2 separate regions of the Homo sapiens genome follow, and region 1 is linked to region 2. Evidence: fine-mapped expression QTL. Tissue or cell type: transverse colon. Region 2 holds a variant in brackets; the other region holds the start of a gene. All regions are shown on one strand. Distances are from middle to middle.

Region 1 (8,182 bases), 23 kb before region 2:
TTGAAAGTGGCATGAACTTCATGGTCGGCAGGGTAATCAGGAACCCTGGCACGGGCCCAGGAGCCCACACCCATACAACTGAGTCAGGGCCCTCCCCAGTGTCTCCACCCCTTCCGGAAATCAGATAACTAAGGCATGCTAGCCTTCTATCCTGCAGGTAAGTCTGTCCTGAGTGACATGGGGCACAGTGAGACCGGTCCACAGGCAGTGTCTTGCATACTAGCAGTGGAGGCCCCAAGGAGCACTCAGAGTGGGGCTCAGCTAAGCTGAAAACCCCATTGCCATGGGGCACCAGACACCACTGAGCTGAACTCACTCCCCTTGTCCCTGCCATGCAGAAGTGATTTCCCTAGCCCCAATCCCCCTGCTGAATGCCAAAGCCAGCTGCCACACACTCTTGAGAGCCAACTGGTAAATTTTCTAGAATTCTGTGGGCTGGTTGTTAAACATGGCCACTAAGAATTAAACTACATAAGCTAGCAATTGAATAAGTTATTTAAAACAGAGGTAATAAATACACAAAACTTGGCACTTCCTAATTATTGACTGTACTATTATCTATGCCTGTTGGATCTGGATAGTGGAGACTCAGTACAATGGTGTGCTACTGCATGTCTCCACGTTTAGTGACATCACTTTGGTAGCTTAGAATCAGTCATAGTAAGGCCAGGTGAGGTGGCTCATGCCTGTAATCCCAGCACTTTGGGAGGCCAAGGCGGGTGGATCACGTGAGGTCAGGAGTTCAAGACCAGGCTGGCCAACATGGTGAAACCCCATCTCTACCAAAAATACAAAAATTAGCCGGGCGTGGTGGTGGGCACCTGTAATCTCAGCTACTCAGGAGGCCGAGGCAGGAGAATTGCTTGAACACGGGAGGCGGAGGTTGCAGTGAGCCAAGATTGTGACACTGCACTCCAGCCTGGGCATTGCAGCAAAACACTGTCAAAAAAAAAAAAAAAAAAAAAAAAAGTCATAGTAAAAGTGTTTACACCACAGAAATTGGCAAATGTGACAAATCAGAGCTTTTTCTGCAGAGAGCCAGTGGTTACATACCTGCCAGCCTACCACTCCTCTCCACCCTCTGTCTTGCTGGCTCTCTGCGGAAGCCCCCCAACCCTTCCAGGCCTGTCCTCTCCACTCTATGAGTCCCAGCAGCACAACTGGCCTTGTCAGATGAGAGCTGTCACATAGGCTTCAGAAAGTCATGGGGACCCTACCAGGAGCCCTGATTATCTGCCCCATTGCATTTACTTACTGCTCTTTGGGGTTATCTGGGTGATTCTTCGTGCTGCCCAAAGCTACCACACAGGGTCTCACATACTGGATGGGCTCCCAGGGAGTATAGCAGTATGAATGGAAGGAGGTGCTGGCCTGATCTCAGAGGTAGGGAATTAAAGAGAGGCCTTGCCTCCATCAAACCAACAAGGTCCCAGCAGCCTCATGGTCCAGGTGAGGCATCTCTCCAAAGTGCCCAGTTCCTGAAGGTCACTGCATAGCCAGGTACCCTCTAGGAATAACTCATATATGAGAACAAGAACATGCAAGCAGATAGCTGGAGGCAGCAACAAGCCTTCTGCCTAAACAATGCAAAACCACTTTAAAAAGGCAGCCCCGTCGAATTGGAGCCCAGGGAACCAGCACAAGAAAATGCTGGCACTCCGTCTGCTGCCATTGCTGTGAGGAGTCCTTTGTAGGGGGAGGGCGGGTAGCCCTATCTATGGATGGCTGAGACTCATTTTGCCTGAGTCTTATATATTCTCAGGAATATCTTCACAGCCTTGGAGTTGATAAAGGAGTGCTTTCTTAAACAGGACATAAGAAAAACCACCAAAGGAGGACACTAAAGGAAAAGATTGGGAAATTGGACTTTGTTAAAGTTAAAAATATCTCTTCATTAGAAGACACCACTGACAGAATAAAAGGCAACACAGACTGAGAAAAGCAATTTGTAATACACTAAACTGGCATAGGACCCAAATCCAGAATACATAAAGAACTACAAATCGGTAGGAAAAAATCAGACAACCCAATTAAAAACTGACAAAAAATTTGAACAGGCACTTCATGAAAAAAGATACCTAGATGGCCCAATTAGCCTATGGAATGGTATGCAGCCTTACTGGTCATGAGGGAAGTTAAAATAAGGCACAATGGGCCAGGCGTGGTGGCTCACGCCTGTAATCCCAGTACTTTGGGAGGCTGAGGCGGGCAGATCACAAGGTCAGGAGATTGAGACCATCCTGGCTAACACGGTGAAACCCCGTCTCTAATAAAAATACAAAAACAAAATTAGCTGGGCATAGTGATGGGTGCCTGTAGTCCCAGCTACTCGGGAGGCTGAGGCAGGAGAATGGCGCGAACCCCAGAGGTGGCACTTGCAGTGAGCCGAGATCGCGCCACTGTGCTCCAGCCTGGGCGACACAGTGAGACGCCGTCTCAAAAAAAAAAAAAAAGGCACAATGAACTATCACTATACACCTACAAGACTGGGCAGACCTTTAGAAATAGAATGACAAGTGTTAGGATGCAAAGCAAAAGCAACTGAAACCCAAAGGGAGTGTCAGCTTGTACTACCACACTCTGGAAAACAGTCTGACAATATCTGCTAAAGCCAAACACACCTATCCTAAGGCCAAGAAGTTCCCAGCAGTGAGTGCATTCATCTACGGAAGAACGTGCACTAGAATGTGCATTGCAGCCCTATTCATGACAGCCCCAAACTGGAGACAACACAGACATCTGTCAGTAGTAGACTGGAGCATACTCACACCACCGACAAGTATACTGCAGTGAGAGAGAATGACCCACAGCTACACAACACACTAGAACATGAATGAACCCCACAAACAACGGAAAGCAAATGAAGCCAGGCACAGAAAAAGTACATCCCATTTAATTCCATTTTCATCAAGGTCAAAACTAACCCATGGGGTTAGACACCAGGATGGTAGGTTCCTTTGGGGAGGAGGCAATGGGTAGGAAAAAACATTTATCTAGAATCTGAAGTTTAAAAAAATTAAAGTAGTTTCTCCTGCTGTGCTGCCTTTTTTTTCTGCTTTGCTTTTTCGAGGTAGGAAGTTCCAGGACAGGTAATATGTCTGAGGAAGCCTCCACCTCCCTCACCCTACTCACCCTTCTCCTCTGGGACCAGACAGGCAGGAACTCCAGGGAAAGCCCAACAAGGAGCTGTCCTAGAGCACTGATTTCATTTTGGCTTCAAGTAAGATTTTCACTAGCAACTCTGCTTTTCATCTCTTTTAAATTTTATTATTATTATTTAGCATTTTCTTATCTGTTACAATGTATTAGGCACTGTTCAAAGCGTGGCATTAGTATTAATATGTTACCCATTCATTCATTCAGCCTGCTGGAGACTTGGTAATGGCCTCTTTATTGAGAACTTACTCTGTGCCAGGTAGTAAGCTAAGTTCCCAATTAATCCTCACATGAGCTCTTCCTTGCCAGGCAGGAGAGAGGGGAAGATATCTGTTAGCATTACAGAGGAGTACACAGAGACTCAGAGAAGTCAAGTGCCTTGTCCAAGGTCACACAGCTAAGTCAGTAGCAGAGTTGGTATACAAACCCAGATTCCACATTACTGCAAAGCACCAAGCTCTGTCTTATCTAGTGACCACCCTCAAGCAAATCACGTTGTAAGACTGGCAGAAATACGAGGTTTCTTAGTTCCCTACCCTGGCCTAATGAATCAAAATTTCTGGCCCCTAGGCTGGCCTGAGCAGTAGAGTCCCCCACAGCAGTTCAAAACCTGATTCCGTCCCCGGACCCAGTAGGCACGCAGGGCCAAGCTGTTGGGTGGACGGAGGGGACGGGACTGCCGGGAAGGTCCCTCACTTCTTTCTGGCCCCTGGCAAATGTTATGTTCTCTCCTCTGAGAAGCCCTCCCTAACCATCCCTGGCCACCCCCCGCAACTGCTTACCCCTTTACTTTGCCTTAGGTGTCTTCCTCGCGTCTCTCAGTCTTATACGTGGGCTAGGTTGAACCATATGACATTGTCCTTTCTATAAATTAAAAAATGGTTGAAAATGGGGCATTTCATGCAGTCCAATTCAAGTGTTTCCCTCTACCAGAATGTCAGCTCCAAGACGGAGCTGGGAAGTGGTTCACAGCCGTGTCCCCAGACAACGCCTGGCACACAGTAGGCGCTCGATAAATGACAGGTGAGTGGCCGAGGGAAGGCGCCCACTTCGAGGAGTTCCGCAGCCTGAAGAAAGGCCCCGCCGAGCCGGAGGACCCCAGGGGACTCCGCCCTGTCCTCTGCAATCTCGGGTGCCTTCCCGGCCGCGACGATCGGGCGGGGTGGGGCTCGCCGTCATCCATTTACCAGCCTCGCCTCTCGGACGGGCGCGCCGTTAATGAGATTAGCAATTTAAAAACCAGCTAGCTGCGTCGGCGGCGGAGGCGCGGGGCCACCCCCAAGCCGAGCCGGGGTGGGACGGCGCGCCTGGCGACCGCGCACTGAGACTGCCGTGCCGGACCCCCGAGCCGGAGCCGAGCGCGCCGAGGCCGGGGCCATGGAGAAAGCGCGGCCGCTGTGGGCCAACTCGCTACAGTTCGTGTTCGCCTGCATCTCGTACGCCGTGGGCCTGGGCAACGTGTGGCGATTCCCGTACCTGTGCCAGATGTACGGCGGAGGTGAGTGCCCACCGCGCCCCGGCCCCAGCCCAACTCTGTGCGCGTCCCCGCCGTGTGTGCGAGCCGGGGTTAGACCCAAGTTACAGAACGGCACACTGAGGCCGGGAAAGCGAGCGTGATTTGTCCGAAGTTACAGACCCGGGAGTGTTCCCAGGACACCTCGTTCCGGAGCCGGAGCTCTCTCCCAAGCCGCCCTCCCAAGCCCTCGGGAACCCCTCGCCCCATCCCGGGGGCGGCCAAGCCCCCAACCCTCACCCTTGTTGGCCAGGCTGCGGCTCTGAGAGCGCAGGGGACGCGGTCTCCTTCTTCGAGAGAAGTGTCAATGGTCTGACGTCTTAGTGAGTAAACCTTACGTTTAGGTGTAAAAAGTGAGTAGGAAATTGTCTTATTCAACAGAAACTCGTTATACAACTTTCAGATCCGAAACTTAAATCAACGGTTTGAAACTCAGGTTAAGAGAATCTTGAGCCATTTCTTTAAATTTTTTATAAGGAGATTGGTTTGAGTTTGGAACGACAGAAAGCAGGAAATGCAAATCATTCTGTTTTGTTTTGTTTTTCTTAAATAAATGTTTCCTCCGAAGCATCATGCACGCTCCGGGGACAGCCAGCCAGCCACGCGCTCTTACCGCACTCCCCTAGCGTTGCGGAAAGCTGGGAACACCTTCTACACATGTCTATAACCTCGTGAAGCCCAAGTACCTTTTTGGAAGGCAATGTGGCAAGAGGGATTTAAGTCTCAGCATCTAAAACACTTTTTTTCTCGGTTGTCTCGTTTCTAGAATTGTATCTAAAGGAAATTGTCAGAGTTCTGACAGAGGTAGAAGGATGGTCACCATCATTTAATAAGAGCAAAACATTGGCAACTTCCTAAGCCCTCAAATAAAGGGGATTGGTTCAGTAAATTATAGAGCATCCATTCAAGGTTGCTCTTCGCAGCCTTTAAGGCGGCATTTTCAAAAAAAAAATTGTATTTTCTCGTATCCTGTATTAAGTGGAGGGAGGAGAAATCAGATTCAAAGCTATATAAAATGGATTTGACATTTTAAAACAATTACTTAAAAATATGCAGAGAAAAGAATGGGGAAAAGACATCAAATTGTTAACAAAATTTCTGGGTGATTTTTGTTTACCTTGTCGTGTGTGTGTGTTTTTGTGTGTGTATGTGTGTGTTTGTGTATTAGGACTTCTATAATTAGCATGTTTTTTTCACCATAAAAGATCATGGAAGATGTTAGACCAAAGTATTTACGAAAATGAACCCATTTGAGAAGACCAAGAGCTAAACACTGCTCCCTCCTCCCCTTACCCCAAATCAACAAAAGGTTAATTCATAGAGTTTTTAAAACAGTGCATTCTTAATTTCCTGATTCCTTTTTAAAATTTGAAGTGCATAAATACACCATAATGATGTGAAGGGCATATGTTGCCATATGCTCTAACAGCATTACCATGTGCTCTAACAGCTCTATAACTGACTCTTAAAAAGAATTATTTGTCAGAATGAGATTTCCACATCATTCTGTGCTCAGTAGACCTACCCATGATACCTTTATCCTGGGTACATGTTTCCCAGTCATCAGTCCAGGTGAGCCTCACTGTCACATGACTACTTAATTCCTTGTTTATAATACCACCATCACCTGAATAGTCTGCAGAGGGATGCATGTGGGGCTGATAGTTCTGGAGTTGAATATGTATCAAGGGGTTGCTAGGGAAACCTCAAGACCCTCAGGTTCCAAGAAAAAGAAACAAGAAGTAATCCTGTGCCTGGTGCAGAGGATGCTTCGGCTGGATGGGTGGATAGATAGATGAGTGGAAGCCGGACGGAGCATGGATTGGTGGCTGGGTGTATGCATGGATTAGTGGGTGCACAGACAAAAGGAGGGTGTGGGTCTGGTGGATGGCACCCTGTCAGCCACATGTCTACAGAATAAAGACCGAACAGTCCACTTGGCACCGTAGGCACTTGACCACCTAACTTGACCACTTGTCCAATATTTCCACCTCATTTCCTGCCACACAGCTTCAAACCTCCTCCTGCCTTCCAAACACTTCCATGAGCACCTCCTTCTGTGCCTCAACCCTTCACACAAGATATTTCCTCCACCTGAGAGGCTGTTGTTGCTGGGAGAACTCCCACCATTCCCTCCAGGTGGGACCAAATATTGCTTTCTCTCCGTTGTGCTCTCTGACTCTCCTCACTACTTCACAGGCCACATAAGCACTTGGTCAGAAGAACTGCACATTGTTCTTCAGTTTCTCTGTCTCCGCCCGGCCCAACCTCTGTGATGTGATGGAGTCACAGGAGCCATCCAATAAATATTTGTTGAGTGAATGAGCAAGGTATTAGGAAAAGCCACAGAATAAATGACGCTAGAGGATGCTAGAGGCTTTCCCAAGCCTTTCACTGCACAGTAAAGTCACCTTTAAGAAGTGATTTGTGTTGCCCCAAACCCAGGCAGTTTACAACCCATCCCTTACCGGAAGGTAAAAATCAGCCACATTATGAAAGGCTGCAGAGGGGTGTATAACTTCCTTGTAAGCAGAGCTGCAAATACCCCCAGCAAACAAAGAATTTGTTTATAAACCACAGAGCCAGGCTGTGCCAAAATACTTCCCAGAATAAGACGGATTAGGGATCTGTGCCCCTCTCCATGGGACTCTGCCCGTGACTGGAGAGGCTTGTTTCCTTCCTGCTCCCCAGGCCAGGCCCGGCCCGGCATGAGGAATGTTAATTCTGAAGATTACATTCCAGGTACCAATCATCTCTGTACAGCCCTGGCTGCCTGCTCTAGAAAAATAAAAAATAAAAGGCAGCTCAAAGAACTTCACAAAATCTCTTTTTGAAAAAGTCAGCAGGTCTTGGGCAACCATGTCAAAATCTAAGGCAGTAGTTGTTCAGGAAGAAATCGGGGATGCAAGTGTGTGTGCACTAAGGTGTAAAAAGCAAATACTGCACTAACTATTTTACATAAACCTGTGCACGGAAGAAACATGGAGAGATGAGAACAGTTGTGTGACTGGTGGAAATATGGATTTTTTTCTCTTAAATTTTCTCTCTGCAATATTGAGGGGGAAATCAGAGGACACCTGACTATGCAGTGGGACAGTATCACTCTCAGACTGGAATGCTCCACATCCCTGCAAAGCCCTTGCTGTCTGGGACAGGAAGCCAGCTCTTTCAGCTGCCTGTACTGCTTACCCCAAATTGCTTAGAGAATTGCATGTCAAACTGTAGCCTACCTGAGCATCTTCATAAACTGCAGGTTGCTAGACCCCACTTCCAGGGATTCTGATCCAGACGCCTGTGGGGGAGGACAGGATTCTTCATTTCTAGAAAGCTCCCTAGCAAGGCTAAGGCTTGGTCCATGGACCACACTTCAGGGAAGGGTCAGGGTTGCTTCTGTGGCCCCAGGCCCGGCAGTAGGGTCCCAGTAAATGTTTAACAACTGGCTCTTGGTGGAACAGCAAGACCCAATTCCAAGAATTTGCAGATTACCTTGATGTAAATCCTCCCACCATGGCC
Region 2 (8,182 bases):
GCAGGTAGTCCAGGGAACAGACTCAGGTCAGTCCCACACAGGCTGTAAATGGCCCAAGGGGATGTCAGCCTAGGCAGCTCAACTGGGCTTCAGGTCTACCAGGACCCCTGTCACCTGCCTGGGACTTGGTGCTGGCTGCCACTGGGCACCTCAGTTCCCTCCACGTGCCTCCCTCTCCCTGCACCCGCATCATTCAGGAAGCTAGCCTGGATGTCCCACAGCTGGTCTCCAAGAGGGTGAGAGGCTAGCTACAGGGTTCTGAAGTCCTGGGCCGGGAAGTCACTCACACAGCATCTCTTCACCATATTCAGTTGGTCAGCTTGCATCGGAGGACAGCCCAGACTCACAGGCTGAGGCAAGAGACACCACTTCTGGATGGGAGAAATGTGCACATGGGAAGGGGAAGGACTGTTGGTGGCCAGCTTTGAACACGATATGGGTCAAAGCAAGAAACCAGCTCACACATTCCAATAGGCTAGGGTGGCCTGGGGAGGTATTGCAGGGGTGGGCGTGGAGGTCCTCACCAGGACAGTCCTGAGCACTGTCTGGGTGTGCAGACCTGGGCTCCAGCTGCCTACTGGCACAGTAGCCATGACCCATTAGGTGATACCCCGGGCCTTGGTTCTGTCTCCTGTGAAATATGGGATTGAGCCCAGTGGGGTGGTCAGACTTGCTTCCATTAATGATGCGTTTTTGTCTAATTAAATCTGGGCTTGTAGAACCCAGATATGTGCAAAACTGATCAATGTGGGGCTGGTCCTCAAAGAGCAGGGTTGGGGTCTCCTACCCCACAGTCAGAAGTAACTTTTCCTCCCCTCCCTCCCATCTCAGCACCACTGTTTACCACTTGGCCTCGGGTCATGGTCATGATGCATGCACCATTGAGGCTCCTTTGTTCATAAGTGACACGCCAGCAGCCTCCTATGGGGGCACACCTGGAGCCTTCTCTTTTCTCACTAACAAGCTTTCCCAATCCCCGCCTGCCTTGGAGCCCCGCCAAATGCAAGCGATGCTGCTATCGCCCTTGCTGTAGCAAGTCCTAAGTAAACAGCCTCTGCTTGTTCTCACTTGGGTGGTCTTTGCTGATTTCCTCAAGTCCTGAGATGCGTAAGTCTCAGGTTCTGTGCTCACTAAGTGCTGGTGGCGAATGGCATTTCCTGCAATGTACATTGGGTTTGGAAGCTAGCAGGAGATGAGGTTCAGGCCCCACAGCTGTCCTGCATGTCTGAGCCCGAGAGAACCTGGTGCTGGTGACTTCTTTGAGCTAGAGTCAAGCTATACCTGAAGCAGTTAGACTCCTGGACTTTGCAGGGTGGAGCCAGTAAGACTCTCATCTGCTTAAGCTACTCTGAACTGGGCTCTCTGTCACTTTCTCTGGTTGGTTCTGAGTTGGCCAAAAAATAGGGACTCTCTCAATCATTGACCAAGTCCTAAGCAATCTGGGCCAGTGCTGCAGAGGGTGTGGTTTAAGTGCCTGAGCTGATTGTGCACAGGCCGTGGGTCGGAGTTCCATCATCAGGGCTGGCCTGGCTGTGGTCCATTTGCTATTCAGTCTCTGGGACCCACCACAGAGTTCAGTAGTCCTCAAGGAACACCCGTAGAATTGCAACGAGAGTAGAGCCCCCTCCTCCAACCCCTTCCTGCCTCACCCGTGCCCCCTGACAAACTCTCCAACTCCCAGTCTGCCTTCAGGGGCTCCAGCCACCTGCCCTTCGGGGACCAGCACCCTTCTCTTCCAAGAGTCTCCGCTCAGGGCCACCTCCCTCACCCCTGCCACAGCCTTTGTCCTCAGCCTTCACCTCCCTGGATAACACTTGCTTTGGTCCCACAGGATCCCCTGCCGTGGTCTGTCTGCCCACTGAATGGTAACCACACGGGCTACGATGAGGAGTGTGAGAAGGCGTCCTCCACACAGTACTTCTGGTACAGGAAAACCCTCAATATCTCGCCGTCCCTCCAGGAGAACGGGGGTGTGCAGTGGGAGCCGGCGCTGTGCCTCCTCCTGGCCTGGCTGGTGGTGTACCTGTGCATCCTGCGTGGCACCGAGTCCACTGGCAAGGTGGGACAGTGAGGCACAGAAGCCCGGTGCTCCTGGTGGGTGGGAGGGTGCACCAAGGGGCAGCTGCCTCTGTCTCCAACCCTAGGCAATGCCAAGGGAGTGCCCTCTGCAGTGGAAAGGCAGCAGCTATGTTAGGGCAGAGGGCACAGATGGTGTTGCTGGGACAAGTCACCTACTAGATGACTATAGAGAGGGCCAGAGATGGTTAAAGTTGCAACCCTAAATCTCAAAACAAGGACTTTCTTAGAAAAAAAAAGTTTTTCTGTAGCAGTCAGCCCCAAATCCATACCACCCAGACAACCAGACAGTGAGTTTGCTTTTCTTTAAGATTGTATGTATCCTCGAGACACCCTAGCCACTGGCTCTCCAACTCAGCTGCACATTGGTATTTTCTGGAGAGTTTTCAAAAATCTCATGCCTTAGCCCCGCCCCCCAAAATTCTGCAGTAACCAGTCTGGGGTGTGTCCTGAGCACTGGGTGGGGAGGCAGGGGAGGTTTAAAAGCTCGCCAGGTGATTCTAATTTGCAGCTGAGTTTGAGACCCTTTGTTCTAAGCTGCTTCCAATCACCCTCCAGAGCTGTCGGGCTTGATCTCCATAATCCTTTCTTGGTGCATCCCAAGGCTCACACTTTCACTGGGGCTGACATGTTCCTTCATCTCTAGTCTGCTCCACGTAGAAGGTTTGCTTTCAGTGTTCCCATCACCCGCCACCTGCCTGAAGCTTCAGCAGATGTCTCGGAGCCTAGCACACCCTGTCTCATTCACTGTCACTTCTCACAGTAGACCCACCACGGCTTGAGCACCCACATTGTGTCATTCTGGCAACAGCCTTTCATGGTAGATTTCATGATCCCAGTTACCTGAAGCTTAGAGAGGTAAATTGACCTGCCCAAGGGCACAGCTAGTGAGGGCAAAGCCCAGCCTCACCCCAAGACTTCCCATTGTCTTGGTTTGGTAGCCACATAGCTCTCTCTATGCCTTAATGATGTCATCAATTCCAACTGTCACCTGCTGAGAGTCCTAGGAGCCCACCTGTCCTCACCCTCTGACTACCTGAGTTGTCTCCTCCAGCCACACCCCACCCCCCATGTATTTCTTGAGGCATTAGACCAGAGCTACCCATGGTATTCCAGGGCCCATGGGACAACTCCAGTATCATGCCTGGTAGGGCATTTTATTTTGGTTTCTAAGAGCCCCTGATGACCAGCCTCTTAGCCCCCAAAGTCCCCTGTGCCATGGCTGAGGAAAGGGACGAGTGAGCACAGGTGCTCTTTCCCCGAGAGAGCTTAGAACCTGCAGCAGCCCACTCAGTCCCATCGTAGAGCCTGGCCATACTGTCATGCTCATAAAAAATGTTTTTGTAATTTATGTTTGCCAGATTATTATGATCATGATCCAAGAGATCAGAGGGCAACATCTGCAGAGGTAGAGATTAGAGACCATTCCTTTTCCCAATCACTTTGAAATGTGTTGCATAAGACCATGTCATGCCATAAAAACTTATTTATTCTTATCATCTATTTCCTCTGCTTCAGCTACACCCTTCTCCCTGGGAAAAGTACCCCAACAGCTCTATGTAAATAGAGCTAATCTTGTCACAGACCATGTGCCATTTCCTGGCATCCTCTGTTGGAATCGACTTTGTTTCCTGCCAGAATCTCTGCAGAGTGGTCAGAATTGGTTTCTTCCAATAGATTAGGCTGGATCACGTGTCCAGCAATTCTGCCCACTTAGGGACTCCATGAGCCTCCAGGAAACTTGCTCACCTTGGGGGAAGGAGGGAAATTCTCGGGGCTGGCCCTAAGGGCCTGCTTAGTGCCCATTGTGATGGATGTTGGTCACGAGTGAGTGCTCTGTCTTTTCATCTCTCTTACCTGGTTTCTTATAATCTTGGGTGGATTTATTACTCTTCTCAAGTTACAACAACCTCAGCTAAGAAGCAGTGATAAAAGACACACCCCACATTCCACCTGCCGTCCCCTGGGTGACAGCGTACAGAGTGCCATTCTGGTGGCCTTGGAAATGGATGAGAAGATGATGCCACACCTCAATAGGAAGGGAGGGCCAAGTGTAATTCAAGCCCACCTGAACATAGGCCACCAGCCATATTTCTCACAGAGAGACTCAAACTTTAAGGGAACTCTTACACAAAAGACAATCTTGCAAAATATTTATTTCCTTTACAAATGAGGCTCTGGTACACATATGAGTTGATTTACAGAAAAAAATCCATTCCTGGATAGGCACACGTGCACTTGAAGGTCTGTATTCTATGGCTTTGTAACAGTTAGAATCACCCAGAGCATGACAGGTGACTACTAAAGCTACCATGAACACCAAAGATATTAACAAAACATCATTGAACTTACGATGCATGTCGGTGGAGAAAGAAGATCTGGTTGACAAAAATGTCCATTCAGGTGTAATGTTAAAGCCTAAGGAAGTAAACCCTTTCTGGAGGGTTGCCATAAAAATCAGATCTGAATTTCCTATTGTGTTTATTA[T/C]GGGGACATTGTCCTCTACGCTACACCTCGCTGCTTTCCTGTATGAGCACTCGTGACCAATCTGCTCTCAGGCCCCAGTCCTGGGGAAATCTGTCCTCCTCCAAGCTGCAGATTTTTTTTTCCTTTTAATTGTGTTCCTGCTTTGTGTGTAGGCCACCAGGAAGCTCAGAGCTGAATCTGGCTCAGAAACTGGGTAGAGACTTATGCACAGATTCTATGGGCTGCTTTTTCCTGTGGGCTCATTACTGGATTGCCCATATATTTTTTTCATGCTGATTTCTTTAGCAATTTTGAAATGTTAACGTGACTGATGTGTTTTTGTGGGTAACCTCAAATCCTTTCCAGAATAAGGTCAGGTTGAAGGGAGGGTGGAAGGCAGAGGCTCGGTACCTGTTTGCCTCTTCTCTACTGAATAAGAAATGTCGTGCTGGTCACAGCTGTGAGCAACCACATCCCACCAGCCCACTTCCCCAGCCCTAACCCAGAGCCTGTGTGTGACCAAGAATCTCCATGCCTTTTCCAGCTGTCAGCAGCTGGGCGGTGCAGCCTGAATACCCCAGATGTGGTGTTCCATGGGGCATGGGTCTGTCCTGTGGACCCCACTGCTCCGGGAGGCCAACTCTGCCCTCTGATGCCCGCAGGTGGTGTATTTCACGGCGTCACTGCCCTATTGCGTGCTCATCATCTACCTCATCAGGGGCCTCACGCTCCACGGAGCCACCAATGGCCTCATGTACATGTTCACTCCCAAGGTACGGGCTGAAGCGGAAGGGCCCTACGGGCACCCCTCACTTATCCTGCCACCTTCCAGGATGGGTGGGAAGAGGGAAAGGTGGAGAGTGGGCCAACGCTGTACCTACGGAAGCTGATGTGAGCCCACCAGGGTGTGGCAGGAGTGTGGAGTACCTGCAGTCACTGGATCACCTCCTCAGCCAGGTCATCCCCACTCCCTGTTAATTCTGGAGCATTAAGTCTTTCTTTCAGCTTCTCCTCTTCATCCTCACTGTCCCCCAACTGCTGCACCCCTGCCACTGCCTCACCTCAAGCCCCTTTCAGACTGTGGACCAAGCTTTTTGCCATGAGCACCACTCTGGTCATCTTGCTTGCCTGCTTACATGGTTCCACGCACCCGTTTCCCTACAGAGTTTCCCAACCCACCCATTCTCCATGCACCCCACACCCAGGGTTCATCCATGGAGGGTGCACTCTTGCCTTTGGGATGGGGCAAGTTCTTCATTTGGCAAATGCAGTCCCTAGAAATAAAATGACTGTGTCATCCTTCCCCTTCCCCATTCCAGACGCCACCGATGTCAGTGCCGAGAGTCAACCCACACCTAGACCTCCCCTGCCAGGCCACACCCCCTCCATCTCTGAATGCCCAGACCTGTGCAGTAACTGCCTATGAATCAGGGCCCCATTTGTGTTTTAATTATTTTACCCTGCAGTATTCCATTGCACACCTCCGCACTGGCGTATAGTGGTGAGCATAGCTGCTTCTGGTTACACACCTCCTATGGCTGAGGTGCTATGGAGGATACGTAGCACCTTATGTCCTCCACATAGCACCTGTATTCTCCACAGCACCTTAGCCCTGGGAGGTGTGCAGCTTGAGGTGTGTGTTTCATCTGCCAGGGAGTGGATGGGGCCAGGAGAGCTGGTCTCCAGCCCTAGGGGTGCCCCTGATGGCTGCGTGCTGTAGGTGAGCTCCTTCCCCTCTCTGGGCTACTCTCCTGTTGCGGGTCTGAGCATTTGGGATTCCACCCAGGGATCATCAGCCCTGTCCCTGCTGGCCTTCCAGATAGAGCAGCTGGCCAACCCCAAGGCCTGGATCAATGCAGCCACCCAGATCTTCTTCTCACTTGGCCTGGGCTTCGGCAGCCTGATCGCCTTCGCCAGCTACAATGAGCCATCCAACAACTGCCAGAAGCACGCCATCATCGTGTCCCTCATCAACAGCTTCACCTCCATATTTGCCAGCATTGTCACCTTCTCCATCTATGGCTTCAAGGCCACCTTCAATTATGAAAACTGCTTGAAGAAGTAAGCCTGGGCTGTCCCACCGAGTCCCAGGCCTCCCTGAGCTCTGAGCTGAAGGGTCGCCTGGGCAAGGGCTGGGGCAAAGTGCACCAGTTTTGGAGTCCTCAATCCAGGGCTCACATTTGGACTCCCTACACCACCACCAGTTGCTGGAGGGCCTGGGGCATGTCAACATCTGCCTGGCAGGGATGAGGGCACGTTAGCGTGTTGTGAGCACTTAGCATAATAGGACATACAATGATCAAATTTTGTTTCTTCTACCCCATCTCCCCCACCTCAGAAGTAACCAAGAAGCCTCTAGCTGAGCCACAGAGATTGCAGGATTCACTTTCTGTGGCCCCTTGCCCAAAATACAAAGACATCATCCAGGAGGTATGCTGTCCAGTTGGGTAGTCACTAGCCACAAGTGGCTATTTACAAATTTACATTTAAATCAATGCAACTTAATTCACATTTAAATAACTTAATTCATATTTCAGTACATTCCCTTGTTACTTTCAATCAGTTGCTCAGTGTCCACCATTAAGTGCTCAGTTGCCATATGTGGCCAGTGAGTACCAAATTGGACAGCCCAGATAGAGAGCATTTTCATCAGCACAGAAACTTCTGCTGGACTATGTTGGTCCAGAGGTTAAAATAGCCTAGCTGTGTGAGTTTGGTGCCTGTTGTCATCACTGTTCATATCTGAGGCTTCTTCAGTGCCATTCAAAATTACCCTGCCCTTTAAAAGATCACCAAGCAACAGACTCCCTTTCCTCACCTAATCAGAAAAGAAGAGGCTGACGGGAGGCTTTGGTGACAGCTGCCTTTCTGATCAGTGAAGGTCGATCCGATGGTCTGCTCTGCAGGGTGAGTCTGCTGCTGACCAACACTTTTGACCTTGAAGATGGCTTTTTGACAGCCAGCAACCTGGAGCAGGTGAAGGGCTACCTCGCATCTGCCTACCCAAGCAAATACAGCGAGATGTTCCCGCAAATCAAAAACTGCAGCTTGGAATCGGAGCTAGACACGGTAAGATGCCCAGGCAAGGTCAAGGACTGGCTTCTCTCCACACACTCATGGGAACCTTGGTGAGCTGCTGACTTGGGAGATAGGCGAGGTCTGTAAAAATAAAGAAGGATCCTGAATTACTTTTCCTGCAACTCCAAGGGGAAGAGAGGCTTTAACACCACTCTCTTGAGGGCTGTTCGAGAATGCTAGTTATAATAAACTTCCTGGCGGACCTCTCTGTCCTTTCTCTCTTTTTCTTTTGTCTTTCTAAGCTTTTAAAATACAGAAAAGTAGAGAGAATAACAAACACCCATATATACCACTCAGAAAGATCAATTGTAAACATTTTGTCATTTTGGGCTCAGATTTTTTTATATAAAAGAACATTTCAGAGATGAAGTTAAAAAGTCCCCCTTTTTTTCCCTACTCACCAAAGGCAAGAACCTTCATTTTTATATTTCTATTACCCATCTATGTATTCTTAAATAATATCATTGTTTTGTTGGCAGTTTTTGTTTTATTTTTTCTTTTTTCAACAAGCCTTTTGCACTCCTATGTCAGCAGTTTTTAAATGGGCATAAATGGTCTGGAA

Evidence for each region. PIP is the estimated chance that this variant, and not a neighbour inherited with it, causes the effect.
Region 1: it holds the start of SLC6A20, and the variant in region 2 is fine-mapped to the expression of SLC6A20 in transverse colon (GTEx, PIP above 0.99).

The regions. Positions count from the first base shown.
Region 1 is chr3:45,792,771-45,800,952 of GRCh38, reverse strand. It overlaps SLC6A20 (solute carrier family 6 member 20), which reads left to right and starts at 4,417. Exons shown (of 11, transcript NM_020208.4): 1 at 4,417-4,654. The coding sequence starts at 4,534. It overlaps LOC107986082 (a long non-coding RNA gene), which reads right to left and starts at 5,054. Exons shown (of 3, transcript XR_001740680.2): 1 at 4,910-5,054; 2 at 3,939-4,020.
Region 2 is chr3:45,769,638-45,777,819 of GRCh38, reverse strand. It overlaps SLC6A20 (solute carrier family 6 member 20), which reads left to right. Exons shown (of 11, transcript NM_020208.4): 4 at 1,832-2,059; 5 at 5,205-5,315; 6 at 6,362-6,603; 7 at 7,449-7,611. Among named protein-coding and RNA genes, the nearest start is that of SLC6A20, 23 kb to the left of the region's middle. The variant T/C (reference allele first, on the strand shown) is at 4,564.